5 linked regions of the Homo sapiens genome follow. The gene in region 1 interacts genetically with each later gene. Each region holds a gene or a part of one and is shown in the gene's direction. Other genes may lie near its edges. The genes, in order: PSMD14, EGFR, RIT1, KRAS and SPPL3.

What was found.
Region 2: changes in PSMD14 (region 1) and EGFR together harm fitness more than expected from each alone (negative genetic interaction), as found in Homo sapiens cells (one large-scale study listed by BioGRID).
Region 3: changes in PSMD14 (region 1) and RIT1 together harm fitness more than expected from each alone (negative genetic interaction), as found in Homo sapiens cells (one large-scale study listed by BioGRID).
Region 4: changes in PSMD14 (region 1) and KRAS are lethal when combined (synthetic lethality), as found in Homo sapiens cells (2 studies listed by BioGRID, with this or other methods).
Region 5: changes in PSMD14 (region 1) and SPPL3 together harm fitness less than expected from each alone (positive genetic interaction), as found in Homo sapiens cells (one large-scale study listed by BioGRID).

Annotation. Positions count from the first base shown.
Region 1 is NC_000002.12:161,407,887-161,413,714, forward strand, and holds the end of PSMD14 (26S proteasome non-ATPase regulatory subunit 14), read left to right. Parts: intron 1-950; coding exon 951-1,013; intron 1,014-3,415; coding exon 3,416-3,514; 3' UTR 3,515-3,831; downstream 3,832-5,828. UniProt on the Homo sapiens protein: Component of the 26S proteasome, a multiprotein complex involved in the ATP-dependent degradation of ubiquitinated proteins.
Region 2 is NC_000007.14:55,206,319-55,212,853, forward strand, and holds the end of EGFR (epidermal growth factor receptor isoform a precursor), read left to right. Parts: 3' UTR 1-5,310; downstream 5,311-6,535. UniProt on the Homo sapiens protein: Receptor tyrosine kinase binding ligands of the EGF family and activating several signaling cascades to convert extracellular cues into appropriate cellular responses.
Region 3 is NC_000001.11:155,901,350-155,904,849, reverse strand, and holds part of RIT1 (GTP-binding protein Rit1), read left to right. Parts: intron 1-45; coding exon 46-119; intron 120-347; coding exon 348-539; intron 540-3,500.
Region 4 is NC_000012.12:25,228,865-25,235,399, reverse strand, and holds part of KRAS (GTPase KRas), read left to right. Parts: intron 1-6,535. UniProt on the Homo sapiens protein: Ras proteins bind GDP/GTP and possess intrinsic GTPase activity. Plays an important role in the regulation of cell proliferation.
Region 5 is NC_000012.12:120,784,095-120,790,629, reverse strand, and holds part of SPPL3 (signal peptide peptidase-like 3), read left to right. Parts: intron 1-6,036; coding exon 6,037-6,156; intron 6,157-6,535.

The DNA of each region.
Region 1 (5,828 bases):
TTCACCTGATACAGAGTCTTGTCTTCAGGCCATAACATACCCAAACTGTTAAGATTTCTTACGTGTGAAATTCTCAATAAAGAGGTTTTATATTGGTGCCATTATTGGGAGAGGAGGGCAGTAGTGGTAGCCAATCTAAATGTTATAATTATTTCAGAATTACTCTGCCAGAAAGTTATGATCATACATAGAAGAGTTTGTAGCTAACTTTGAAAGTAGTGGAAAGTGGTTTTCATGTATTGTTTGGGTTAATTTAATTTTGATTATATTTGGTTTTTAGTTCAGGTAATTTTTTTGTTGAAAACTTCAAATGACAATTTCTTCATGGTTACTAAAGATCACTCATGTGGAGTAGTTTCAGATTTTTTTCTGAATACATGTATTACTTTTAGAGATGTAAAGATGTGAAATTACTAAGAGAGAAACCCATGTGATTTGTTTAGTGGATCAAAAGTCGGTAGCTCCTTTGATCCTAAGTGCCACTGATAGTTAAATAGATACTGAAGCTATGGGCAGGCTGGATTGATAAGAAAAAAGGAGACAGAGAAATGGGAAATTGGGAAAGAACTGTGCAAATAGGAAAAGGAGAGAGCAACAGAACAGAATTAGTACCACAGTGCCGTAAGTGCCACCTCAGGTACTTCCATCTCCCATCTCCTGAAGAATTCAGTAACAGTTTGCAAATGGTCAACACAATCATTTAGTGATCCTGTTTGATATTTTCAATACTTTCTGTGTATTTCTTGTCTGTTTTCAAAATGATGATGCTGATAGTTTTTATTGCCCTGAAGGTTATTCTGAAGTTTAGCATAATTTTATTTGTTCAGTAAATTATTTGAATAAAAGTTGTATGAATGAAAATTCTGGTCATCATTATTTTTGGTGATTATCCTGCAGTGGGAATAGAGGATTTATAATTTTAAACTCTGTCCTTTGTGTTTCATTCACAGGCTGTAGAAGAAGAAGATAAGATGACACCTGAACAGCTGGCAATAAAGAATGTTGGCAAGCAGGTGAGGTGTACTGTTAATAAGTTATGCAGTTGCATAATAACATGTTCTTATAGAGTTAAAACTGTTTTAGGGCCTATATAATTTTTTTCCTGTCCACTCTATGTTTTTCTTCTGTCATGTAAATGTGATACTAATTGTAAAGGTCACTAAATTTATTTGATGTCAGGTTCTCTATAGAGAAGTAAATCACAAATACCTAAGAGATATTATCGTCAGTGAAAATAATTTACTAGGAACAAATTAGGACACTTGTATCCTGAATTAATTTTTTAAGTATTATTTTTACCTACAGATAAATAAGATAATAGAAGGGTAGATTTATTTCATGTGTAACAAGTTTTGTTAATCATGTACTTTATCAATATGTAGGTAATATTCCTGAGAAAGGTTAGAGCCTTATTGGGTTATACTGAGTGAAGAGAAAGGGCTTTAAGTATTTGCTCTTTCACTTTTCTAAGAAGAAATATATATTTTAGTCTCTATTATCTGAGGGTGGGGGAAGACACCAACCAATTAAAGGAATCTACAGATTAATTAGACTGTTTTTTAAAGAATGTTGATTACATTTTTTCCCCATTTCATGGAACATGGTTATCATATTGCTGATGTTGGCAGAATCTTGATATTTCAGATGCAAGACACTAAGCTGTCTTTGCTTTCAGCCATCCTACCATATGCTCTGATCCCATCACATCTCACAAGCTATGTAGGTTTGGGCCAGGACCATTCTTGGATGGGAAATCTCTAAGAATCACCCAGCTGCCACAAGAAGTAATGTAGATAACTGAGGGAAGCGTGTTACCAATTCACTATAAAATGAATTACTCCAACAGAGCAGTAGGGGCAAAGGTCTGACTTTATCATATGTCATAAATGAGAAAATCAAATTTCACTACCTTCTAAGTATTACAGTTTAAAAACAAGTACCCTCAAAAAGCAAAATGAAATACAGTTCATTTTATTTTCTCATCTTATGTGATATCACCCTTGTTATCTTTTCCACTACTTATTTTAATCATAATACTAGATCACCAACTTGGAGCCTTATACTTTATAGAATTCAGTAACTGTTTTTTGAATAAATGCCTTTCCAAGGCCATAGTTTCTTGATACAGATTTAAAGCAGCAAATAAAAGGTCTAAATACAAAATGAAACTGAAAAATATGTAATTGGCAAAGTTTAATAATCATCAGAATCATTTTTAAAAATATAGTTATTACCTCACTGGTTTGGCCTACTGCATGGCAAAAGCAAAACTGTCTGTAATGGAATTAAACCAATATCTTTTTTTCTCCTGCCAGTGTTTCTCAGTGTTTTTCACCTAAAATGCCCTAAGACTTATTTCTGAAATAAAAAATATATTGTAGTCTAGTCACTTAATTATTTGTAACATGTTGTATCTCTGGGTTGTTTAAAAAAAAATAGTGTATTAAAATAAGGGTTAGAAAAGCATGGCCAAGAAATAATTCCAATAATGAACATTTGTTTAAAGTTAGGAGTCTTGGGTATTTTAACAATAATCGTAAGAATATAATCATTTAAATTATAATTTTTCTATTGTGTATAATATATATTCCTTATTTCAAAGCTCTGAAATTTTGCTCAAATACTTAATTCTGCCTAAAACATAAATACATACTAAGCATTTTAATTTAAATTAGTTTATTACAATACAATTTTAAGCCTCCTTTTTAACTCAGTCTATTTCAAAAATAGATTTGATCAGGTTTAAGTTAAAGGATTGCACCTGTATAATTTGCTATGATACATTTTTTTCAAAATAGCTACATGAAACATTCTTAACATTTTAGAATTGATCCAAATTGTATTTAAATTCTTCAACTACAAACGGCAGCTTTTGATCCAAGAATATTTTCTGAATCATTTAAAGCACTACTCTTGAAATATTAAAATTGTACAGAATTCTGATTTTTGCTATTATAAAACATAGAAGAAGTGCTGAGAATTCACACTGAACTCTTACCCTTTGGTATGTCCGCTTTGAATTAAGCATTCTCTCAGACATTCAAGATATATGAACGGTAGAGAATATACACATATATTCAGACAGGTATACATATATAAATGAAATTTTTTAAAAAATCAGATGATTGTGAGCTGTATAGAATTCCTTGTTACTCTTTATAAAAATCTCTGGTACATAGTCATTGCATTGTATAAATCAAGCTTTCATTGTGTAATCTATTATTTTATTAGCTACTTAACTTTTTGATTTAGAAATTCTAAGAATGTAACAATATACTAGTAAAGTTAAATTGTAAAATATTTAAGTAAGGTCTGGCTTTCTTTACTAGTTTCATCAGCTACTGAAAAAAATTTAAGTAATTTATCTACCAGTAATATGGTTCTGTTTTCTCTTTCCTCATTTTTGTTCTTTTAGGACCCCAAACGTCATTTGGAGGAACATGTGGATGTACTTATGACCTCAAATATTGTCCAGTGTTTAGCAGCTATGTTGGATACTGTCGTATTTAAATAAAGCAACGAAAAACGCTATTAATGATGCCTTCAGTGTATATTCCTCTGTTGTTCCTAATGCTCAAAATCAAGGGACCTCTGAAGGTGTACTTGGCTAAATGTAAGACATCTGGCATCATTTGCAGCACTGTAACACCTTCAGTCTCAGTTGTGCAATTACTTCTGTTTCTTTAGTCAGGGTCTTTGCAGATTCTAAAGTTATACATGAATACATCAAAGTGGACAAATTTTGTTAAGATCCCATTTAATATTTGAAAAAATCAGTAGCACAAATATATTTTGATTGTCACTTACAAAATAAAATACATTTACAGTCTATGCCTCCTGAGATCTTTTTGGCAATGGGTGGGATTGATGGAATAACATTTGACAGTGGTCTAGAAATCTCACACAAAGATATGTTTCCGTTTGCATTTTAAGATCTTACAACACATAAAACATCAGTGTGATAAAACTTCACAGATGTATAATGATTTCCATTAATGAGTGGCTACCTAATTAGTGAGTAACTCAGAAAAAATGTTGACATTTTATTAGCATTTGTCATAAGCTAAATATTGTATACTCACTATCTTATAAACATACTTTTAGGATTTTGGAAGAGTACATTTACAAAGAAAAGGGAGCAATTTTAATTTAGACTTTATCATGTTTTAAAAGAGTACATTTCTACCAACAGTTTTGAAACTGGGAATTGGCTGCTGCAAACTCTACTGGACTTTCATCTAAAATAGCCACAGAAAGTATATGTCTAAAAAGCAAAATGAGAAAAGTAGTCATAATGTGAGTTTAATATAAGCTTATAAGCAATAATTTTGCTATTGTTTGGTCTCATCTTTTCTAAATTAGGACTACCCAGTTTTCTAATAGAGAAAAAAAAATGGCTAATACCAACTTCTAATGTGATGTACAAAAGTAACTGCCCCTGTTATTACTTACGGTTCAGAACCATACTGATTATACCATTTGTATGGCAAAAGATACAGAGACAAAGATCTAATTCTAGTCTGCACCCTTGTGAAAATATGGTGAGAGTATTACTGTAGCTTCATTAAAGGAATGTTTTACATGGACTTGCAATTTAACTTAACCTACTAGAACTGTTATGAGTGCTGTGATAGATCAAATTACTGTCCTACTGGAACAAGTCTAGGCTCTTATTGGTTCCCTAGTGAAGTTACCAGAAACTGAAAGTCAAAATGGCTTAAATTCCCAGTATGTTTCACAGTATCTTTTTTGGTGGAGTAAGAAGTATTCTGAGCATTTCTTGCTTGTCCTGTGGTTTACTGTTTCAGATATAGTGACAGTATATTTTATGTAGGACATGTAATATGTATTAATTTAAGTTGTTGGGATTACATTTAACCATTTAAAATTCAAATATAAGTGGAAGTTAGTGAAATTTTCTTTTGCCTAATTCAAACTTGTGTGCAGGCTTTTTGGATATGATTTTTCCCTTTGCAAATAAGATTCTATAACTTATTTCACAGATGTTGTTAATGAGTGCTAGTCAATGATTTTTTGGGGGGTACAGTGCCCTCAGAAGAAGGCCTTAACATTTCAAGAACTATTCTCAATATTTGGGTTGAAAGGGTTTTTTTGTTTTTGTTTTTGTTTTCTACTTAGTCCTCTGAAAATATCCTGAGTCCTGTGACTGGAAAGGCTTACCTTGCCTGTTTTTTTGCCCTTATTTGATCACCCCATCTTCCTGGACTCCCTATAGCCACACACCACTTACTCTCACTTAGTTCATGTTGGTGACATTCCCAGTTTCAGAACCTTGTCAAAATCTTTGCTAGCAAAAACCTACATTACTTTTTGTAGATTTGGAGTCGATCAAAATCAAGATGCCCTAAGAGGCAAGGCTCAGTGAACACCTTTGTCTTGGAATGTACAGCTATTTTCGCAGCAGCCTGATGTCCCAGGCCCAGTTAGGCACTGAAAAGATGCATTTAATCACAAACTTAGTAAGCTGTTTAAGACTGTATATGTATGCGCGCACATGTGCACGCAATTACCCCTCCATCATGCAGAGGTAAAGCAGCTCTGGAAACAAAACTGTTTGTCTCTAGTGCAGAAATGTCCCTGCTTTTCTCTCAGACTAATACGGGGGCACTGAAAGCTCCGGCCTCACTATTCAAAGTGTCATCTGCCTGGACCAATAGCATCTGGGTCTTATGGAAATTCGTTATATATACAGAAAGCAAGCCCCACCCCAGGCCTATTGAATCATAATAAAGAATCCTGGTGTGGTTCATATACACTTTAAGGTTTGAGAAGCCCTGGCCTTCTTTTAGAAGTACGGTTCACAGGCA
Region 2 (6,535 bases), on another chromosome or scaffold:
CAGTGGTTTCCAGTCATGAGCGTTAGACTGACTTGTTTGTCTTCCATTCCATTGTTTTGAAACTCAGTATGCTGCCCCTGTCTTGCTGTCATGAAATCAGCAAGAGAGGATGACACATCAAATAATAACTCGGATTCCAGCCCACATTGGATTCATCAGCATTTGGACCAATAGCCCACAGCTGAGAATGTGGAATACCTAAGGATAGCACCGCTTTTGTTCTCGCAAAAACGTATCTCCTAATTTGAGGCTCAGATGAAATGCATCAGGTCCTTTGGGGCATAGATCAGAAGACTACAAAAATGAAGCTGCTCTGAAATCTCCTTTAGCCATCACCCCAACCCCCCAAAATTAGTTTGTGTTACTTATGGAAGATAGTTTTCTCCTTTTACTTCACTTCAAAAGCTTTTTACTCAAAGAGTATATGTTCCCTCCAGGTCAGCTGCCCCCAAACCCCCTCCTTACGCTTTGTCACACAAAAAGTGTCTCTGCCTTGAGTCATCTATTCAAGCACTTACAGCTCTGGCCACAACAGGGCATTTTACAGGTGCGAATGACAGTAGCATTATGAGTAGTGTGGAATTCAGGTAGTAAATATGAAACTAGGGTTTGAAATTGATAATGCTTTCACAACATTTGCAGATGTTTTAGAAGGAAAAAAGTTCCTTCCTAAAATAATTTCTCTACAATTGGAAGATTGGAAGATTCAGCTAGTTAGGAGCCCACCTTTTTTCCTAATCTGTGTGTGCCCTGTAACCTGACTGGTTAACAGCAGTCCTTTGTAAACAGTGTTTTAAACTCTCCTAGTCAATATCCACCCCATCCAATTTATCAAGGAAGAAATGGTTCAGAAAATATTTTCAGCCTACAGTTATGTTCAGTCACACACACATACAAAATGTTCCTTTTGCTTTTAAAGTAATTTTTGACTCCCAGATCAGTCAGAGCCCCTACAGCATTGTTAAGAAAGTATTTGATTTTTGTCTCAATGAAAATAAAACTATATTCATTTCCACTCTATTATGCTCTCAAATACCCCTAAGCATCTATACTAGCCTGGTATGGGTATGAAAGATACAAAGATAAATAAAACATAGTCCCTGATTCTAAGAAATTCACAATTTAGCAAAGGAAATGGACTCATAGATGCTAACCTTAAAACAACGTGACAAATGCCAGACAGGACCCATCAGCCAGGCACTGTGAGAGCACAGAGCAGGGAGGTTGGGTCCTGCCTGAGGAGACCTGGAAGGGAGGCCTCACAGGAGGATGACCAGGTCTCAGTCAGCGGGGAGGTGGAAAGTGCAGGTGCATCAGGGGCACCCTGACCGAGGAAACAGCTGCCAGAGGCCTCCACTGCTAAAGTCCACATAAGGCTGAGGTCAGTCACCCTAAACAACCTGCTCCCTCTAAGCCAGGGGATGAGCTTGGAGCATCCCACAAGTTCCCTAAAAGTTGCAGCCCCCAGGGGGATTTTGAGCTATCATCTCTGCACATGCTTAGTGAGAAGACTACACAACATTTCTAAGAATCTGAGATTTTATATTGTCAGTTAACCACTTTCATTATTCATTCACCTCAGGACATGCAGAAATATTTCAGTCAGAACTGGGAAACAGAAGGACCTACATTCTGCTGTCACTTATGTGTCAAGAAGCAGATGATCGATGAGGCAGGTCAGTTGTAAGTGAGTCACATTGTAGCATTAAATTCTAGTATTTTTGTAGTTTGAAACAGTAACTTAATAAAAGAGCAAAAGCTATTCTAGCTTTCTTCTTCATATTTTAATTTTCCACCATAAAGTTTAGTTGCTAAATTCTATTAATTTTAAGATTGTGCTTCCCAAAATAGTTCTCACTTCATCTGTCCAGGGAGGCACAGTTCTGTCTGGTAGAAGCCGCAAAGCCCTTAGCCTCTTCACGGATCTGGCGACTGTGATGGGCAGGTCAGGAGAGGAGCTGCCCAAAGTCCCATGATTTTCACCTAACAGCCCTGATCAGTCAGTACTCAAAGCTTGGACTCCATCCCTGAAGGTCTTCCTGATTGATAGCCTGGCCTTAATACCCTACAGAAAGCCTGTCCATTGGCTGTTTCTTCCTCAGTCAGTTCCTGGAAGACCTTACCCCATGACCCCAGCTTCAGATGTGGTCTTTGGAAACAGAGGTCGAAGGAAAGTAAGGAGCTGAGAGCTCACATTCATAGGTGCCGCCAGCCTTCGTGCATCTTCTTGCATCATCTCTAAGGAGCTCCTCTAATTACACCATGCCCGTCACCCCATGAGGGATCAGAGAAGGGATGAGTCTTCTAAACTCTATATTCGCTGTGAGTCCAGGTTGTAAGGGGGAGCACTGTGGATGCATCCTATTGCACTCCAGCTGATGACACCAAAGCTTAGGTGTTTGCTGAAAGTTCTTGATGTTGTGACTTACCACCCCTGCCTCACAACTGCAGACATAAGGGGACTATGGATTGCTTAGCAGGAAAGGCACTGGTTCTCAAGGGCGGCTGCCCTTGGGAATCTTCTGGTCCCAACCAGAAAGACTGTGGCTTGATTTTCTCAGGTGCAGCCCAGCCGTAGGGCCTTTTCAGAGCACCCCCTGGTTATTGCAACATTCATCAAAGTTTCTAGAACCTCTGGCCTAAAGGAAGGGCCTGGTGGGATCTACTTGGCACTCGCTGGGGGGCCACCCCCCAGTGCCACTCTCACTAGGCCTCTGATTGCACTTGTGTAGGATGAAGCTGGTGGGTGATGGGAACTCAGCACCTCCCCTCAGGCAGAAAAGAATCATCTGTGGAGCTTCAAAAGAAGGGGCCTGGAGTCTCTGCAGACCAATTCAACCCAAATCTCGGGGGCTCTTTCATGATTCTAATGGGCAACCAGGGTTGAAACCCTTATTTCTAGGGTCTTCAGTTGTACAAGACTGTGGGTCTGTACCAGAGCCCCCGTCAGAGTAGAATAAAAGGCTGGGTAGGGTAGAGATTCCCATGTGCAGTGGAGAGAACAATCTGCAGTCACTGATAAGCCTGAGACTTGGCTCATTTCAAAAGCGTTCAATTCATCCTCACCAGCAGTTCAGCTGGAAAGGGGCAAATACCCCCACCTGAGCTTTGAAAACGCCCTGGGACCCTCTGCATTCTCTAAGTAAGTTATAGAAACCAGTCTCTTCCCTCCTTTGTGAGTGAGCTGCTATTCCACGTAGGCAACACCTGTTGAAATTGCCCTCAATGTCTACTCTGCATTTCTTTCTTGTGATAAGCACACACTTTTATTGCAACATAATGATCTGCTCACATTTCCTTGCCTGGGGGCTGTAAAACCTTACAGAACAGAAATCCTTGCCTCTTTCACCAGCCACACCTGCCATACCAGGGGTACAGCTTTGTACTATTGAAGACACAGACAGGATTTTTAAATGTAAATCTATTTTTGTAACTTTGTTGCGGGATATAGTTCTCTTTATGTAGCACTGAACTTTGTACAATATATTTTTAGAAACTCATTTTTCTACTAAAACAAACACAGTTTACTTTAGAGAGACTGCAATAGAATCAAAATTTGAAACTGAAATCTTTGTTTAAAAGGGTTAAGTTGAGGCAAGAGGAAAGCCCTTTCTCTCTCTTATAAAAAGGCACAACCTCATTGGGGAGCTAAGCTAGGTCATTGTCATGGTGAAGAAGAGAAGCATCGTTTTTATATTTAGGAAATTTTAAAAGATGATGGAAAGCACATTTAGCTTGGTCTGAGGCAGGTTCTGTTGGGGCAGTGTTAATGGAAAGGGCTCACTGTTGTTACTACTAGAAAAATCCAGTTGCATGCCATACTCTCATCATCTGCCAGTGTAACCCTGTACATGTAAGAAAAGCAATAACATAGCACTTTGTTGGTTTATATATATAATGTGACTTCAATGCAAATTTTATTTTTATATTTACAATTGATATGCATTTACCAGTATAAACTAGACATGTCTGGAGAGCCTAATAATGTTCAGCACACTTTGGTTAGTTCACCAACAGTCTTACCAAGCCTGGGCCCAGCCACCCTAGAGAAGTTATTCAGCCCTGGCTGCAGTGACATCACCTGAGGAGCTTTTAAAAGCTTGAAGCCCAGCTACACCTCAGACCGATTAAACGCAAATCTCTGGGGCTGAAACCCAAGCATTCGTAGTTTTTAAAGCTCCTGAGGTCATTCCAATGTGCGGCCAAAGTTGAGAACTACTGGCCTAGGGATTAGCCACAAGGACATGGACTTGGAGGCAAATTCTGCAGGTGTATGTGATTCTCAGGCCTAGAGAGCTAAGACACAAAGACCTCCACATCTGTCGCTGAGAGTCAAGAACCTGAACAGAGTTTCCATGAAGGTTCTCCAAGCACTAGAAGGGAGAGTGTCTAAACAATGGTTGAAAAGCAAAGGAAATATAAAACAGACACCTCTTTCCATTTCCTAAGGTTTCTCTCTTTATTAAGGGTGGACTAGTAATAAAATATAATATTCTTGCTGCTTATGCAGCTGACATTGTTGCCCTCCCTAAAGCAACCAAGTAGCCTTTATTTCCCACAGTGAAAGAAAACGCTGGCCTATCAGTTACATTACAAAAGGCAGATTTCAAGAGGATTGAGTAAGTAGTTGGATGGCTTTCATAAAAACAAGAATTCAAGAAGAGGATTCATGCTTTAAGAAACATTTGTTATACATTCCTCACAAATTATACCTGGGATAAAAACTATGTAGCAGGCAGTGTGTTTTCCTTCCATGTCTCTCTGCACTACCTGCAGTGTGTCCTCTGAGGCTGCAAGTCTGTCCTATCTGAATTCCCAGCAGAAGCACTAAGAAGCTCCACCCTATCACCTAGCAGATAAAACTATGGGGAAAACTTAAATCTGTGCATACATTTCTGGATGCATTTACTTATCTTTAAAAAAAAAGGAATCCTATGACCTGATTTGGCCACAAAAATAATCTTGCTGTACAATACAATCTCTTGGAAATTAAGAGATCCTATGGATTTGATGACTGGTATTAGAGGTGACAATGTAACCGATTAACAACAGACAGCAATAACTTCGTTTTAGAAACATTCAAGCAATAGCTTTATAGCTTCAACATATGGTACGTTTTAACCTTGAAAGTTTTGCAATGATGAAAGCAGTATTTGTACAAATGAAAAGCAGAATTCTCTTTTATATGGTTTATACTGTTGATCAGAAATGTTGATTGTGCATTGAGTATTAAAAAATTAGATGTATATTATTCATTGTTCTTTACTCCTGAGTACCTTATAATAATAATAATGTATTCTTTGTTAACAATGCCATGTTGGTACTAGTTATTAATCATATCTAACCAACTGTAGGTGTTCTTTCCTGATAACTTTTTTAAAAAATCAATAAATTATTTTTAGAGCAGTTTTAGGTTCACAGCAAAACTAAGCAGAAAGTTCAGAGAGCCCCCCCTGTCGCTAACCAGCCTCTCCCACCATCACCATCGCACCTCAGGAACCAGAGAACTTTTTAATGGAAAAAAAATCCAAGCCAGCTCGGAGGCTTCCTCCTGTGTCTGGGCCAGCCCCTCGGGCTCTCAGATGCATTCCAACTCAAGCTCTTCACATGCCAGAGCCTTCCAGTGCCCTTGAGACCCCTCATTCCAAAGATCTCTTCATAGTTTTTCTCCTTCACAGAGCCAAGAGGGAATTCCCTGATGGAACAGATTTTTCTATGGCAAGCCCAGGTTTTATTTCTTCAGAGTACCAAAATAATTAGAAGTTTGCCCTGATTCTGCTAAAAATCAGAGGAATTAAGTGGGTCCCAGCATGGGCAAGGGGCCTCCCATTCAGCTGCCCCACTCACCGCCAACCTCTCTTACATGTGGGTGGTCCCACCCTCCACCCAGAACTTTCATGGCAGGAGCTCTCACTGCCGTGTTTAATGTAATGAAGCCACTACCTGCACATCGGGAATAGCCACGGTGTGGCAGGGGAGGGTTCTAGGGAGTCCGAGCTCAGACTGCAGTCAGGCTTCCTTACCACAGGAGCATGTTCTGAGAAATGCATCATTAGGAGATGTCATCACCGTGCGAGCATCACAGAGTGTACTTCACACATCTAGATGGCACAGCCCAGCACAAGCCTAAGTGATACGGCGTAGTCTGTTGTTCCTAGGCTAATGATCTGTACAGCCTGGGACTGTACTGAATACTGCAGGCAACTGCAGTACAATGGTAAGGATCTGTGTATATAAACATAGCTAAATGTTAAAAAGACACAGTGAAAACGTGGTATTATAATCATATGGGACCATGTGAACATCGTTATGTGGCACATTATAGAAAACCCAGGTTCTGTGTCTAAACGCTTAAACAGATAAATGAGTACAGATAGTTTTCTCAGTTCTAGCTGTAAAAGTAGAGTTAGGGGATTTGAACTCAACACCTGAGAAAAAGCAAACCTGTTGATGAAGCAGATGATGCTACCAAAGAGGAGAGAACAGCTTCCCAAAACCCAGCATCAAGGGCCGAGCAGCCAGGAGGCTGGGTGGG
Region 3 (3,500 bases), on another chromosome or scaffold:
TCCGGCATTTATGACTTTATAGTACACCTTTCTTCCCTCCTGTAGAAGATGCTTATAAGATCAGGATCCGTATTGATGATGAGCCTGCCAATCTGGACATTTTGGATACAGCTGGACAGGTATTAAATCCCAGAATGTTATGAGTAAAGGCTTTTTTACTCTAGCAAAGGGGAGGGGAAGGCCTACACAGAGAAGATCAATAGTTTATCTCTCTTAATTTTTCATGCACTCTGACTCAGGATAGCAGGTAATCGACATGCGTTTTCTTTAATCTGAAAGAAATAGCTAATTGTGTGTGTAGTTGGGCTAGATTGCGTCAATACATAATGACCCTTGTTTCCCTCTAGGCAGAGTTTACAGCCATGCGGGACCAGTATATGAGGGCAGGAGAAGGGTTTATCATCTGTTACTCTATCACGGATCGTCGAAGTTTCCATGAAGTTCGTGAGTTTAAACAGCTTATTTATCGAGTCCGACGTACTGACGATACACCTGTGGTTCTTGTGGGAAACAAGTCAGACCTCAAACAGCTAAGACAGGTGAGGATAGAGAAGAAAATACTGTCTATAATCTTATACAATTAGTCATTTTTGTTTCTTGGCTTACAGATTCTTGGCTTGGCTTACAGATTTTTTTGCCTTAAAATAGAAAATCAGGCTGGGTGAGGTGGCTCACACCAGTACTTTGCGGGGCCAAGGTGGGCAGGTTGCTTAAGGTCAGGAGTTTGAGACCAGCCTGAGCAACATGGCGAAACCCCATCTCTACAAAAAATACAAAAAAACATAGCTGGGCATAGTGGTGCATGCACATGTGGTCCCAGCTAGTTGGGAGGCTGAGGTGGGAGGATCCCTTGACCTGGGGAGGTGGAGGTTGCAGTGAGGTTGGGGCTACAGCTTACTGCAGCCTCTACCTCCCCAGCTCAAGCAATCATCCCAGTTCAGCTTTGAGGGTAGCTGGGACCACAGGCGTGTGCCACCACTCCCAGCTAATTGTTTTTACTTTTTGTGGAGACAGGATCTCACTATGTTGCCCAGGCTGATCTTGAACACCTGGACTCAAGTGATCCTCCTGCCTTGGCCTCCCAAAGTGTTGGGATTACAAGTGTGAGCCACAGCGCCTGGCTGGAAGTAGTTTGATAGTAGTCAAATTCATAATGCTTCTCTGTTAATCTCCATTGGAAAAAATTTATAGGGATTTATATATAACATGTTCATTGCAAGACTATTTATGGTAGAAGAAAATGAGAAACAATCTAGCTGTCCAAAAGTAGAAATTATGGCATATCCATAATTAGATGTATCAATTATGGGCTCCTAATAGTTTTCAATATTTTAGTGTAAGCATATATCTCTTTCCCTCCCTTTGTGTTTCTTTCTTTTTTTTTTTTTTTTTTTTTTGAGACAGAGTCTCACTCTGTTGCCTTGGCTGGAGTGCAGTGGCACAATCTCGGCTCACTGCAACCTCCTCCTCCTGGGTTCAAGTGAGTCTCCTGCCTTAGCCTCCTGAGTAGCTGGGATTACAGGCGCATGCCACCACGCCCGGCTAATTTTTTTTTGAGACGGAGTCTTGTCTGTCGCCCAGGCTGGCGTGCAGTGGCACGATCTCTGCTCACTGCAAGCTCTGCCTCCCAGGTTCATGCCATTCTTCTGCCTCAGCCTCCCGAGTAGCTGGGACTACAGGTGTCCGCCACCATGCCTGGCTAATTTTTTGTATTTTTAGTGAGATGGGGTTTCACCGTGTTAGCCAGGATGGTCTCGATCTCCTGACCTCGTGATCAGCCTGCCTCGGCCTCCCAAAGTGCTGGGATTACAGGCATGAGCCACCGCGCCCGGCCTAATTTTTGTATTTTTAAGTAGAGACGGGGTTTCACCATGTTGGTCAGGCTGGTCTCAAACTCCTGACCTCATGATCTTCCCACCTCGGCCTCCCAAAGTGCTGGGATTACAGGCGTGAGCCACCGCGCCCAGCTTTCTTTTTTTTTAATTTTTATTTTAATTTTGTTGTTTTGAGACAGAGTCTCACTCTGTTGCCCAGGCTGGAGTGCAGTGGCGCAATCTAGGCTCACTGCAACCTCTCTGACTCCTGAGTTCAAGCGATTCTCCTGCCTCAGCCTCCTGAGTAGCTAGGATTACATGTGCCTGCCACCACATCCAGCTAATTTTTGTATTTTAGTAGAGACGGGGTTTCACCATGTTGGCCGGGCTGGTCTTGAAGTCCTGACATCAGGTGATCCACCTACCTTGGCCTCCCAAAGTGCTGGGATTATAGATGTGAGCCACCACACCCAGCGTTTTTTTGTTTTGTGTTGTTTTTTAGACAGAGTTTCACTCTTATCACCCAGGCTGGAGTGCAGTGGCATGATGTTGGCTCACTGCAACCTCTGCCTCCTGGGTTCAAGCAATTCTCCTGCCTCAGCCTCCCAAGTAGCTGGGATTACAGGCGCCTGCCACCATGCCCAGCTAATTTTTCTTTTCTTTTTTTTTTTTTTGATATAAAAGCATTTTTAAACTTTATTATTAATACTCAGGACATTAGGAATTTCCAGATTTTTTTCAGTAGCATTTGTAGAACCACTTTTGGTAACAAATACAGTAGTTAGGAATATGCATCCAGTTCAGAATGCATAATAATGTTTCTCCTGAATCCTTTCCGGCTAAAAACAGGGCTGGCACTGTGATGAGATATAGAACGAGAATCTACAAAAAACACTGTAACATGTTTGTTTTTTCCCAGAGGCTACATCCTCTTTTGCTGGAATACTTTATAAATACATATTAAAAAGTAAGGCAACAACTCCAAACAGTCCAAGCTGTTTGCTCAACTCTTTTCCCAATTAGATTTGCAATCCCGGTGATCAGTTTCATGGTTGTATTGTTTAGTGTTTCTTTCTTATTTTAGTAGAGATGGGGTTTCACCGTGTTGGCCATGCTGGTCTTGAACTCCTGACCTCAGGTGATCTGCCTGCCTGCTTCAGCCTCCCAAAGTGCTGGGATTACAGGCATGAGCCACCGCACCCAACTTTTTTTTTTCTTGAGACAGGGTCTTGCTCTGTCACTGAGGCTGGAGTGCAGTGGCGCAAACATGGCTTACCGCAGCCTTGACCTCCTGGGCTCAAGTGATCCTCTTACCTTAGCCTCCTGAGTAGCTGGGACCACAGGTGTATACCACCACATCCAACTAATTTTTTTTTCTTTTTTTGAGACAGAGTCTGGCTCTGTCACCCAGGCTGGAGTGTGACACCTGGAGTGCAGTGCCGCGATCTTGGCTCACTGTAACCTCCGCCTCCCAGGTTTAAGCGATTCTCCTGCCTCAGCCTCACGAGTAACTGGGATTACAGGTGCCCAACACCATGCCCAGCTAGTTTTTTTTAAGTGGAGACAGGGTTTTGCCATGTTGACCAGGTTGGTCTCGAACCCCAGACCTCAAGTGATCCACCTGCCTCAGCCTCCCAAAGTGTTGGGATTACAGGCGTGAGCCACCGCTCCTGGCCCCAGCTAAAT
Region 4 (6,535 bases), on another chromosome or scaffold:
AATTCCCTGTTTCTTCCCTATTATAATTCTGACAGTCTACAACCGTCTTTGATGGCTTATAAACGGAAAGTGCGGAACACATCATTCTACAGTGAATTTAAATAACCTTTCGGAAGAGTAACGTAAAGTACTTGAGCATTAATTGAGTAAAAGTTTCTCATCTTTTCCTACAGGTGTTATTAAGCAGTATGTAAAAAGTCCTTACAATACTTAATACATTAAGAAAACATACAATTTCAAGAGGAAATCCCCGAGTAATACATTATTGACATTTTCAGCAGTTCTAGTTATATTGAGAAGAGCATCTCATGGAATTGGCAGAATGAAGATGGAGATTAAATGAGATGATGTTTGTAATATGCTTATGACAGTATCTGGCATATAAGTAAGGGCTCAGTAAATGTTGACTGCTGTAATTACTATTAATAGTAATATGATTACCTTTAGTAAAAGTTATTAGTTTCTTTAGGTTTTTTGTTTACTACAATATAGTAAACAAAATCTATACTTGGAATGTATATATTGTTTTGTTTTGATACATGGAATATGTCTCTGTGTCAGAGTCACTGCCTGAGTTGGAAAACCCATACTCGAGTATGTTAAAAGGTGAACACACTGAATAATTTAGTTATTAATTATAATGGAAAAATGACAAACTTGATGTTCTGGTTAATGAGGTTATCTTATCTTGAATGAGTTAGCTTTTAAATTCCTCAAAATAAAGGCATTTAATAAACCAGGAAACACTTCATTAAAAAAATTATGCAAGTCAGTGTAAAAGAAGATTAAAATTCCACATGGGCAAAGGACACACGTTGGCGATAAATATGCAGATAAGAAAAAAAACCTATATAACATTATTACTCCTCAAAGAAATTGGTATGAAAACAATAAAAATGTGTAGCTTATCAAACCAACAAAAATTTAAAAATATGAAATCCATTTTAAGTAATGATAAAATGGGTGCACTCTTAGTGCTTTATAGAATAGTAGTATAATGAACCTCATGTGTGTACCAACCAGCTCTTTCATATCTTAACATTTAGCAACATTTGATTTAGCTCTTTCTTTTTTCCAAGATAGAAAAGTTAATATTGTTGAAGACTCCTGCATTCTTTTCCCTAGTCTTATTTTCTTCCCTCCCATAAATGTGTTAAAATCTCTGTGTGTATTGTTTTGGTTGTATTTTTACATAAAACTTTACATATTATATAAAATTTAATTGAAGGTAAAATTTATTAAATTATTCTTAATATATATTGTAATTTAAAAATTAACAGCTTCATTGTCTTGATAAAATTTATGGTATCTTAAACATGTGCTTGTTTTTCTAAGAGAACATTGAAACATAGATTTTAAAACAAATTGTTGAAAGATTAAAAAATCTGCCTTTGCACACTGTTACATTGAAAGTGGGGCATTTGTCGTGAACATTCATTTCAAATATGTAGTATCTTCAGAATATTTGAGAAGGATTTGTATTATATAATTGAAAAATCTGTTAAATTGTATTTATGTTAACTGCTTAATTCTAATAAAATTTCCATTCATTTTTTAGTATCTGCATATATTTACATCAAATGGATTCATTCACTTATTTAAGAGGCAGTACTAATTACCTATAGCGTTCAAGACTGTTAGGTAGAGGGTGTGTAGTGGTGAGTACAACAGGCGTGAGCCCTACCAACACGGAGTTTAAAGCCTAGTAGAGGATATAGACTTAAACAATTTCACAAGTAAATACATAATTACAAATTATAATACATGCTATGAAGGAAACATAGGAGGTACCAGAGAAGGAAGAGTGCTTTGCATTTTTATTTTTAAGACCGAAGAGTGCTATTGGAGGACTTTGAGCAAGTGAATGACATGATCTAACCTACCTTCGTTCATTCATTCATTCATTCATTTTCTTCCTTCCTGGCTCAAGCAGTCCTCCCACCTGAGCTCCCCAAATAGCTGGGACTACAGGTACACACTACCACACCTAATTTTTTTTTGTATTTTTTGTATTTTTGATGGGATTTTACCATGTTGGCCAGGCTGGTCTTGAACTCTTGACCTCAGGTGATCCACCTGTCTCGGCCTCCCAAGGTGTTGGGATTATAGGTGCCTAGCCCATGGTGCCTAGCCCTAACCTACATTTATAAACTATCACTTGCTGCTGTGTGGAGACTATATTGTGAGATTAACAGCAGGGATACCTGCTAGGAAGCAATTGCTGCAGATTGCCTGAGACAAAATAGTTATCATGGACTAGGGGGATGGTGGTGGTGGTGGTGGTAGGTGGTTGGATGTAGGATATATTTTGAAGATAGGTAAATGGTGCAAGATTATGGGTCAGTTTTAAATGCTTAAGTAAATTTTCTTTGTAAGACATTTTAGGATGCCATGTTAAGAATCTCTTTATAACTGTCATTTAAAAAAAAACCACATATTTTCTTAGCATAATTTCCCATAGTAACATTACTATGTCAAAGGCTATGAACATTTGAATGACTTTAGATAAATACTGTAATTGCTTTCCAAAAATATTGTGCTTATTATGTCACCAGAAATGTTTGAATTCTGTCTACAATTCAGTCTTGCCAGTATAGTACATTTCATTTAGAAAAATTTTTTACTATGTAGATGGAAAAAATAATATTTTAGCTGGGAGTGGGGGGACTATGGGGAATAACTTTCCTTCATTTAATATTTTATTGTGAGTTAGTTTAAGTTACTTTATTTTATCGTAGTTTCCTAAGGCTACAAATTAGTAACCTTGGTAACTTATGTACCTAATTTAAAAGTTTACTTTTTTGAAAGGCTGGAAATACTAATTAAAAACGTAACACCTTCATCCTTGTCTTTGCTCCATTATTAACTAGTTTCATTACAGAATCTCTGTGTTTTAAAATCAGATGGGTTTTCATAACCAGTACTTTCTCAGAGTGGTAAATTTAAAAAAATATATAAAGAGAATAAATAATATTTGTTGAGAATACTTCAAATAATGTGAAGAGTTATTAACTTACAGCAGGAGTTGGCAAACTTTTCTATAAAGGGCCATATGGGTCTTTGTCACAAAGTCTTGGGTTTTTGTTTTTGTTTTTTTAAACAGCTATTTAACTATTCCTAGCTAATGGGCAATACAAAAACAGTGGGCAAGATTTGGCCTGTGGGCAGTAGCTTGCTGAAACCTTATTTAGACTCTAAATTTTTTGAAAGAGTCTACATTGATGCATATTTTTTTTTCTTCCTCCAAATACAGTTGACCCTTGAACAACATGCGTTTGAGTGACCATGGGTCCACTTGTGATACACGTTTTTTTCCCAACCAAATGCAGATATGGAGGGCTGACTTTTCATATACCTGGATGTTCCTGGGCCAACTGTAGGACTAGAGGCTGGGGGGGTCTTGGAACCAATGCCGTGTGTATACCAGGGATGACTGTTTCTTATGGCCTGACCTGAAGTTGGAACAGAATCTTTATTAATATATAATTTTTGTTGCGTTTGTTTTCTCTTTATATTTATCCATTCTTTTTAGATCGTATTTCATTTAACACTTTTTCTTCTTTAGTTTTTACCAAGTTGCACTGAAAATAGCTCAGTGACTAATTGCACTTCTAAGAGTGAGGACCCTAGTTAAAATTAACTCTAAAAATACTGAATTTTTAACCTAAACCTTTTATTTCTAATCAACAGTATTATTTATGAGTAGGTTATAGATTACTTTGAAACGGAATGTGTCTCAGAACTTTGCTATCGATATTTTTAAGGTCTGGTAGGGAAAAGATAATAGGAATGAGATTTATCAGTGAATAGGGGACTGCTTTCCCAGTTTCTCGGTCGCACTGGTGTATTCACCATGGAAGCATCTTATGAAATATGTACATAAACTACTAATATCCCACATTACAGGTTGACTATTCTTTATCTGAAATGCTTAGGACCTAGAAGTATTTTTGGATTTTGGTTTTTCAGAGTAGGGATACTCAGCCTACATTGGTAAGTAAAGAATGTGAGGTGACAGGCTGGGCGCGATGGTTGACGCCTGTAATCCCAGCACTTTGGGAGGCCGAGGCGGATCACCTGAGGTCAGGAGTTGAAGACCAGCCTGGCCAATCTGTACTAAAAATACAAAAATTAGCTGGACACAGTGGCACGTGCCAGTAGTCCCAGCTACTCAGGAGGCTGAGGTAGGAGAATCGCTTGAACCTGGGAGGCGGAGGTTGCAGTGACTCGAGATCGTGTCACTGCCCTCCAGCCTAGGCAACAGAGCAAGACTCCATCTCAAAAAAAAAAAAAAAAAAAAAAAAAAAGAATGTGAGGTGGCAGCAATAGGTAGGAAGAGTCTTTGGTCAGCTTTACATGCTCTGTAGCCATGCCTGGGTAATGGGTTGACTCTAAGACTCTGTGCTTTGCTCCCACCTCCTGCTTTTTCATTACTCTTTAGAATGGTTTTTAATTTGTGATCTATAGGAGTTCTTTCAAGTATTTAATAAGAGAATAGGCTAAATTAAGTAAATGTCAACTGAATGCTCAAATCTCTACTAAAGAGCCTCTTATTTAGAAAATAAATATCCATCTTTTTTTTCTGACTGGTGAGATAATTAATTTTTATTACAGATGGTTTGGAAAATACCATATGCTTTAAAAGATAAGCACAAAATTATAGTCTAATATGTAGGTTTTCATACTTTAAAAAATTGAAAACCAAAGAAAAACATTTAACATAGCATCTAGTACAAAGAAAAGAGATAAGCAAGAGATAAATGTCTTTTTTGGGACAGAGTTTTGCTGTTGTTGCCCAGGCTGGAGTGCAATGGCACAATCTCAGCTCACCGTAACCTCCACCTCCCGGGTTCAAGTGATTCTCCTGCCTCAGCCTCCCGAGTAGCTGGGATTACAGTCATGCACCACCAGGCCCAGGTAATTTTGTATGTTTAGTAGAGATGGGGTTTCTCCGTGTTGGTCAGGCTGATCTCAAACTCCCGACCTCAGGTGATCTGCCCACCTTGGCCTCCCAAAGTGCTGGGATTACAGACATGAGCCATCGCACCCGGCCAAGATAAATGTCTTTTAAATTATCTCCATTAAAGACATAACCTTTATAACATTTTGATGTATATATTACCAGTTTTTAAACACATAGTAGATTTGTATAAATACATAAACACATATTATTGTGATCATGCTGCACTTAGACATCTTTATATTCTCCTTATACTGTAAACATTTTGAAATACTTTACTAACAACATTTGTAATGACCATTCTTTCTCTCTTTCTCCCTCTGATAGAATGGTCTACAGAGTAATTCATAAACTAAACATACTTTAGAGGCTGGGCGCAGTGGCTCATGCCTGTAATCCCAGCACTTTGAGAGGCTGAGGCGTGCAGATCACGAGGTCAGGAGTTAGAGACCAGCCTGACTAACATGGTGAAACCCCATCTCTACTAAAAAAACAGTACAAAAATTAGCCGGGCGTGGTGGCGTGCACCTAGAATCCCAGCTACTCAAGAGGCTGAGGCAGGAGAATCACTCGAGCCCAGGAGGCAGAGGTTGTAGTGAGCCGAGATTGCACCACAGCACTCCAGCCTGGGCGACAGAGCGAGACTCCATCTCAAAAAAAAAAAAAAAAGATACATTAATACTATAGCCTACATGTGGAACATTAAGAAAATAATTGCTTTTATGTTTATGCTTTATACCTGTTGTTAGCCCTGCTTCTTATTTCATGATTTCATGGCTTCACATTGTAACATCCCTTTACCATATTTTTTGAGGACTGTTTTGGCAGAATGTGTGAAATCTTGAGCAGAAGTATTACCCAAAAGTCAGAAGAAAATCAGATTTTTATTTCAAGATTCTGTTAAAGTTACCCACTCCCTTCTTTTACTTAATCTTATAGTTGCAGTTCTCTCTCTTTTTAGAAAAGAAAAAAGAGGCCCCTCAGGATTTGCAGATGAAACAATATTGCTCTTTAGAGATATCCATCTGGCTGTTAGATTATTTTTCCACAGTTTTCAGAAGTGGATGAGGCCATTAGAATCTTGAGTATTGCCCATTTCCTTATGTGTGCCTTTGACTATAGATAAAATAGATGCATGACAATTATTTATAAGTTGATTGATTTTTCTTGTCATTTAAATCATCTTGAATAATAGAGTTGGTAGAGCTATCCCATTTTTGAAATTATTTTGTTTTGTCAATAACTTTTTGTTACCAGCATGTACACTTGCATTGTTGACTCTCCATATAATACCTTTAAAAAATTTTTTTTTGTGGTAAAATATGCATAACATAAAGTTTACCATGGTAGTTTTCTTTCATTTGTTTTGTTTTTGTTTTTTTGAGACGGAGCCTTGCTCTGTTGCCAGGCTGGAGTGCAGTGGAGCGATCTTGGCTCACTGCAACCTCCGCCTCCCGGGTTCAAGCAATTCCCCTGCCTCAGCCTCCTGAGTAGCTGGGACTACAGGCGCCCGCCACCACGCCCGGCTAATATTTTGTATTTTAATAGAGATGGGGTTTCACCATGTTGGCCAGG
Region 5 (6,535 bases), on another chromosome or scaffold:
GTCAGATAAGGTTTCTTTACAAGAGAAGGTGGGTTTGACTTAGTGAATGTGGATTGGTGGAGAAGTCGTCATTTCAGGTTAGGGGAACATATAATAACAGGCACAGAGATCACGACCTATAGAACAGGGTAAGGTCGCCACCTAAGAGAGAGGAAATGCTAGAGATCTAATTAAAAGGTAGATCAAATATTGATTGGAGGACCATGGATGTTAAATTGAAAAGAGATCACTTATTGTGTATCTTAGTTTCTCCAGTTATTATAGCACGCTGTCAACCTAGTTGTATTTGCCCAGTTTTCACCGGGCACAGACCCAGTCACATGGGTTTCATTGTCCCTGGCAGTGCCAAAGTGGGCATGATAAAGACGGTAAGTCGACTCATTTAAATATAATGAGTCTTTTCTTAAATTTATGACATGGATCCTTGTATGATATAAAATTCCATACCAGTAGTTATTACTAGTGCAAGGAACCACATAAAACCTGGTGCAAAATCTGATTTTTAGATTAAATTATTACATAGCAGCTTATCTTCTGTCAACATTTTAAGCCAAATCAGTTTATACTCCTGAAACTCTTTTTAAAAGTCCTGTATTATGTAGCACATATGCAAGTGATGTTCTTAAACCAAATTATAAATCTGCTGTACATTGCATCACAGAAACCTAAAGAAATCTACCTATATTATTATGTCTAAGTTTACCTCAAAAACAAACAAAAACAAGAAATGGTTGTGCCAGTCCGTACAGTGGAAAGAAGTTACCTGGTAATACAGCTCTTTTTTTTTTTTTTTTTTTTTTTTTTTGAGACGGAGTCTTGCTCTGTCATTCAGGCTGGAGTGCAATGACGTGATCTCAGCTCACTGCAACCTCTGTCACCTGGGTTCAGGCAATTCTCCAGCCTCAGCCCCTGGGGTAGCTGGGATTACAGGCGCTCGCCACCATGCCTGGCTAATTTTTGTATTTTTAGTAGAGATGGGGTTTCACAGTGTTGGCCAGGCTGGTCTCAAACTCCTGATCTCAAGTGATCCATCCACTTCGGCCTTCCAAAGTGCTGGGATTATAGGCATGAGCCACTGCACCCAGCCAACATAAGCTTTTTTATTTTTTGTTCATGAAGCACAGTCTAAAGAGTGGTAGAATACTTCTTTTTTAAATGCTTTTTTTCTTTTTTTTTTTGAGACAGAGTCTCACTGTCACCCAGGCTGGAGTGCAGAGGTGCAGTCTCTGCTGACTGCATCCTCCGCCTCCCGGGTTCAAGTGATTCTCCTGCCTCTGCCTCCCGAGTAGCTGGGATTACAGGCACCCACCACCACACCTGGCTAATTTTTGTATTTTTAGTAGAGATGGGGTTTCACCATGTTGCCCTGGCTGGTCTTGAACTCCTGACCTCAAGTGATCCTCCAGTGTTGGCCTCCCAAAGTGCTGGGATTATAGGCATGAGCCACTGCACCCAACCTAAATGGTCTTTCTTAACTCTGCCAGCTATGTTGTACTAAATTATCCTTGACAACATTTCTTCAGTGCCTGCTCTGAGCAGTGGATGCCAATAGGATAAGGACAGATTAGCATAGACTGCAAAATTCACTTCCTCAAAGAAGAACATAATGAAGAAGCCATTACAAAGACGGCCGACCAGTACTTGATTATGGAATATAAAATTATTACAGATTGAAAGGATGACATGGAAAACAGGATGAATTTATCAAGAATCAAAGAAATAATAGCCAGAAAGATGAACAGAGAAACAGAGAGGTGTAGGTGCTAAGGAGATGGAAGTCCTGGATGATTAACAATGTGGAACAACTGGGGAGAAGGTTTTGAGAAAAAGAAAGTATAAATTTAGTGTTAAGATTTTGTCAGGAGTGTTTCAGACTGATTGAAGGAGACAGTAATCAGAAGTTTTTAAAAGATTGTAGCTGCCCACTCCCAAAATAATAAGAAACAAGGAATTTGTAAAGAGATAGGAGAGCAGGAGAAGTTGTAGGTGTAGCCAGCATCATTGGTGGGGTACGTGGGTGAAGGGTTACTCTTACGATTACATGCTTTGAATATGTCAGAAATGATTTGACTGTCCTTGATTATAATAGGAGCTAGGAGAAGGAGAAGCATTAAGTGAGACTCAACAGAGGGTTAGATGGGCCATGTGACTCATGCCCCAAAAAATCAGAACTTAAAAATGGAGAAATCAGTTTGTAATTGAAAGTTTCTCGCTGCAGGGTGCCCTAGGGTATTTGACCAAAAGACTGGGTAATTATTACTTCAGATTATAATAATGTTCCACCTATCTGGGCAACTCGAAACACATGGAAGTAAGAGGAAGAGTTGATCAGGCCTGCCAGGAACTATGGCACTCAACTCATTAGAAAGCAGAAAAGTAAAAGTGAAGACAGTAATGAAAAAGCACTACATGCCCACCACCAGAATAGCTAAAATTAAAAACCTTGACCATTCCCAGTGCTGATGAGGATGCACAGCAACAGCAAAGAGCCCTCTTGCGTTACTGGAGAGCATGCGTTAGCACAGTCACTTTGGAAGGCAGTTTGACATTTTACCTACTAAAGGTGACAGTATAAATACCCTTGGACCCAGCAGTGTCACTCCTAGTTATATATCCAGCAAATACAGTCACATGTGCATCAAGTCATGTGCAAGAGTGCCTAGAGCAGCAGCATTTGTAATAACCAAAAAATTGGAAACAACCCAAATGTCAACCGTAGAATGGATAAATTTTACTGTATTCATACAGTGAAAACAAGTGAACTGCTGTAGCTACATAAAACAGCATGGATAATTCTCACAAATCATATTGAGTCAAAGAAGCCAGACACAAAAAAATAACTACATAACTCAATGCATATAAAATTTAGGAAACAGGCAAACTAGTATTTAAGGATGCGTGCTTGGGTGGAAAACGTGTCATAAAAGTCAGGATAGCGGTTCCCTTCAGGAGAATGAGAGAGAGAGAGAAAGTAGTGATTGAGAGGGACACAAAGGAAGATTTCTGGGGTTGGTTTGTTTCTTGACTTGAGTGGTATTAAATATGTAATAATTCATTTTTGTGCTTTTCTGGGTGTGATGCTTCACCATAAAAAAGGTTAGAAAGTGACAGGAGTGAGGGTGGAGGGCAAGAGTTCCCTCCAGGTCCTCTGATTTCCCCTGACCTTGTTCTAACTTCTCTGCCTGCCCCCAAGAAGCCAATATAGAAATTTATTTTCCCATGGCACATCAGTCCTTCATTTAAGTAGTATTAAGTGGAATTTTAAAAAGCCATGTACACCCCTGCCCAATTATCTGACATCTTAAAGACTTTTACTAAACTTCAGTTATAATTTATTTGAGTTATAAAGATTGATGGAGATGTATAGTTGGGATCCTCATCTTTAGTAGAGGTATACATCTTAATCTTCTTGCTTAGATTGTAAACTTCATGAGATCTGGAAATGACTTTCTTTTAATCCCTCCTGTTGCTTACTATATAATAAGTGTTCAGCAAATAGTCAAAAGCATCGTTCTTACAGGGAGGTGTAAAATCAGTAATTTTCTTAATAGTTATTGGTTTTATTGCTCAGTGTCTATTCCATACCAGACGTACATTTAGCCTGTAGCCATGTTCATTGAATGTTAAAAATGATGTTGCTGTACAAAATTTTTAATTCCATTACCAAGCCTATTTCCTATGTTGATTTTTGCCTTAAAGATAATGCAACTGCACTTGCATATGTCCTCCTAATTATGGCTAGTCTGTTTTGCTTTGCTCAGTTTTGCTTTGTTTTTAAGTTACTGGAGTTTGGCTAAAATTTCTAATTAATTACCTCTTTCTTTCCCATTCAAGACCTTTATCTCCAGAACTTTAGGAAATGGAGTACTGAAGTCATGGACATTGTTTTAGGTAGCATATTGTCAGGAACTAAAGGCGCTTTACTTGCCCTGTGACATCGCCTCCTGGTTCAAAAATCTGTGGTTTAAAAAAAAAAAAATCTGTGCATTCTATCTAATACGCCAGAAAGGTCCTTTGTATTCAGTTTCGCATGTAATTGCAGACTGAACTTTTAAAATTTAGCTTTATTATAAACAAATGCATCTCTTATATACCTCACCACTACAGTCTTTATTCTAGCTAGCCATTTAATTTTCTCTTCATACTTTGAATCAGTATAATCTGTCTATAGACTCCCTGATGCTTTGTTCCTATGATAAAGTTATTTATCTGAGAAACATTATTTTCTGTAGTGAAAGGCACTGAAAATCTGTAGCTTCCTCTAGCTGTTCTTTGAACTACTGTAGAGCACTTACATTTAAAAACTATTTAGGTAAAATTTAGTTAGAGATTTCATAGAGTTTTGTCTAATGGATACACTTCCCGAAGTGATCCTTGGGCCAAGCTGAATGGATTTGACTAGGGTCAGGACAGACTGCTTCCAAGATAATTTCTGTTTGTCATGACACATAGTTCACTTTTCCTAAATTGAATTGTCCTATTCCTAAGTGAATTACTTCACTCATCTGCCTAGTCCCTGAGAAGCATTTTGTTTTATAGATTTAGTCAATCAAAAACCCTAAATAACTCTTTTGGGGACAGGCAAATTTAAATACCTAAGAGAAATTTTGTTGATCATTGTAACCCTTTGTGTCTTGCTATGTTTATCCTGGTTACATATTTTATTTGTAGCCTTAATATAATGAAGAGACCTTTCCTTTTTTTTTTTTTTTTTTGCCTTGGACTCCTGGGCTCAAGTGATCCTCCCACTTCAGCCTCCCAAGTAGCTGGAACTACAGGCTCAAGATAACATGCCTAATTTTTTTTTTTTTTTTAATTTTCTGTAGAGATAGGGTCTCCTTAGTTTGCCCAGGCTGGTCTTGAACTCCTGGCCTCAAGTGATCCTCCTGCCTCAGCCTTTCAAAGTGCTGGGATTACAGGCATGAGCCACCACACCCAGCCTTTTTCTTCTATTATTTCATTATTATAGATCATATGAAGATTTCTTTGATTCCTTTTGTGCGCTTTTATGACATCTCAATAGAGTTAATTTGGAAGTGAGACAAGATAAAACTGGTAATTTTTTTTTTCATTCAGTGGTTATTAGAGTTTGCCATGTTTTCCTTCTCTACCAAAAATACTCTATTAATGGTTCTCAACCCTAGATGCAAAATACAGTTTTGTGAGGAGCTTTTAGCTGGGCCTAACTCCTGTGATTTCATTTAATTTGTCTGGGATTGGACCTGGGCTTTGTAATTTTTTTAAAGCTCTAATGGGAAGCCAAGAATTGAGAACCCTTGCGCTAAATCCTACTCTAGCCCAAGAGATTATTTTCCCGTATTCATCTCCTATTCTGGTACCTTAAAATGTTCCCATAAAATAAATTTTTTTTTTTGTAAATATTAATAGATAGAAACGGGGGTCTCGCTGTGTTGCCCAGGCTGGTCTTGAACTCCTGGTCCCAAGCCATCCTTCCACTTCAGCCTCCCAAAGTCCTGGGATTACAGGCGTGAGCTACCACATCTGGCCAAATAAAATTTTTCTGATTTGCTGTTTTCAGCTATGACTTGTTGTCCTCCTTCTCCCCCATCAGCCAAGTCAGTTCTCAACTATTAGCAACAACGAGAAAGAGTGAAAATGAGTACCTTAAACCCACAGGTGATGAGAAGTCCTTTTAGTCAATGGGTTTAAACCACCTCTTTTACCAAACCTATATTCAAGACCACAAATTTACCCAAATGGACTAATCTGGGTTTTTACTACCTCTTAATGTTCTCGGTGGTGGTTTGGATCCTGTCATCCAGATGGTTAACACCAGGAGGTAGTAGTTCACTTCAACAAATATTCCTGAGTGTCTGCTGTAATGAAAGGCACCATGAAGAGAACAAGGAGCTCATAATCTCGTTGGGAAAGAAAGACTCATAGGGCCTGGATAATCCATGTCCTACGTATAATCCGTAGAACTGTCTGCATTTTTGCAAGTTAATGTATATGAAGTGCATAGGCACAGTGCCTGGTGCATAATAAGTTATTAATCTGTCTGTTTTTCTCTTTCAGGCATCCAAACAATTGACTCTACCCAGGCTCTGTTCCTTCCAATTGGAGCATCTGTCTCTCTTTTAGTAATGTTCTTCTTCTTTGACTCAGTTCAAGTAGTTTTTACAATATGTACAGCAGGTAAATATGAGTTTCTCTGTCTAGTCTTAACATACTAAAAGGAAAATTTTTCACCTTTATCATTGTTCAAAAATTAAGATTTATATACCATGTCATGTAAGTTTTTCCTTATAAATCTTGGCTTCGCCTTCTCCGTCTCAACCACGCCACCCTTCCCCAACTCCTCCTTGAACCTCTTGATCCACGTCATCTGTTGAGACCTGCCCACACAATCTGAAAGAAAGGCTGGAGACGTCAAAGTGCAGGAATTCTATGACACCAGAGCAGTATTGCTGTGCTTTGGCTGTGGCGCTTTTTCTAGATTACCAGAAGGTTGAGCTTGGCATAGAGGCCATTGTCAGCCTCTACCCACGTTCTTGCAGGTAGAAACATGGATAGC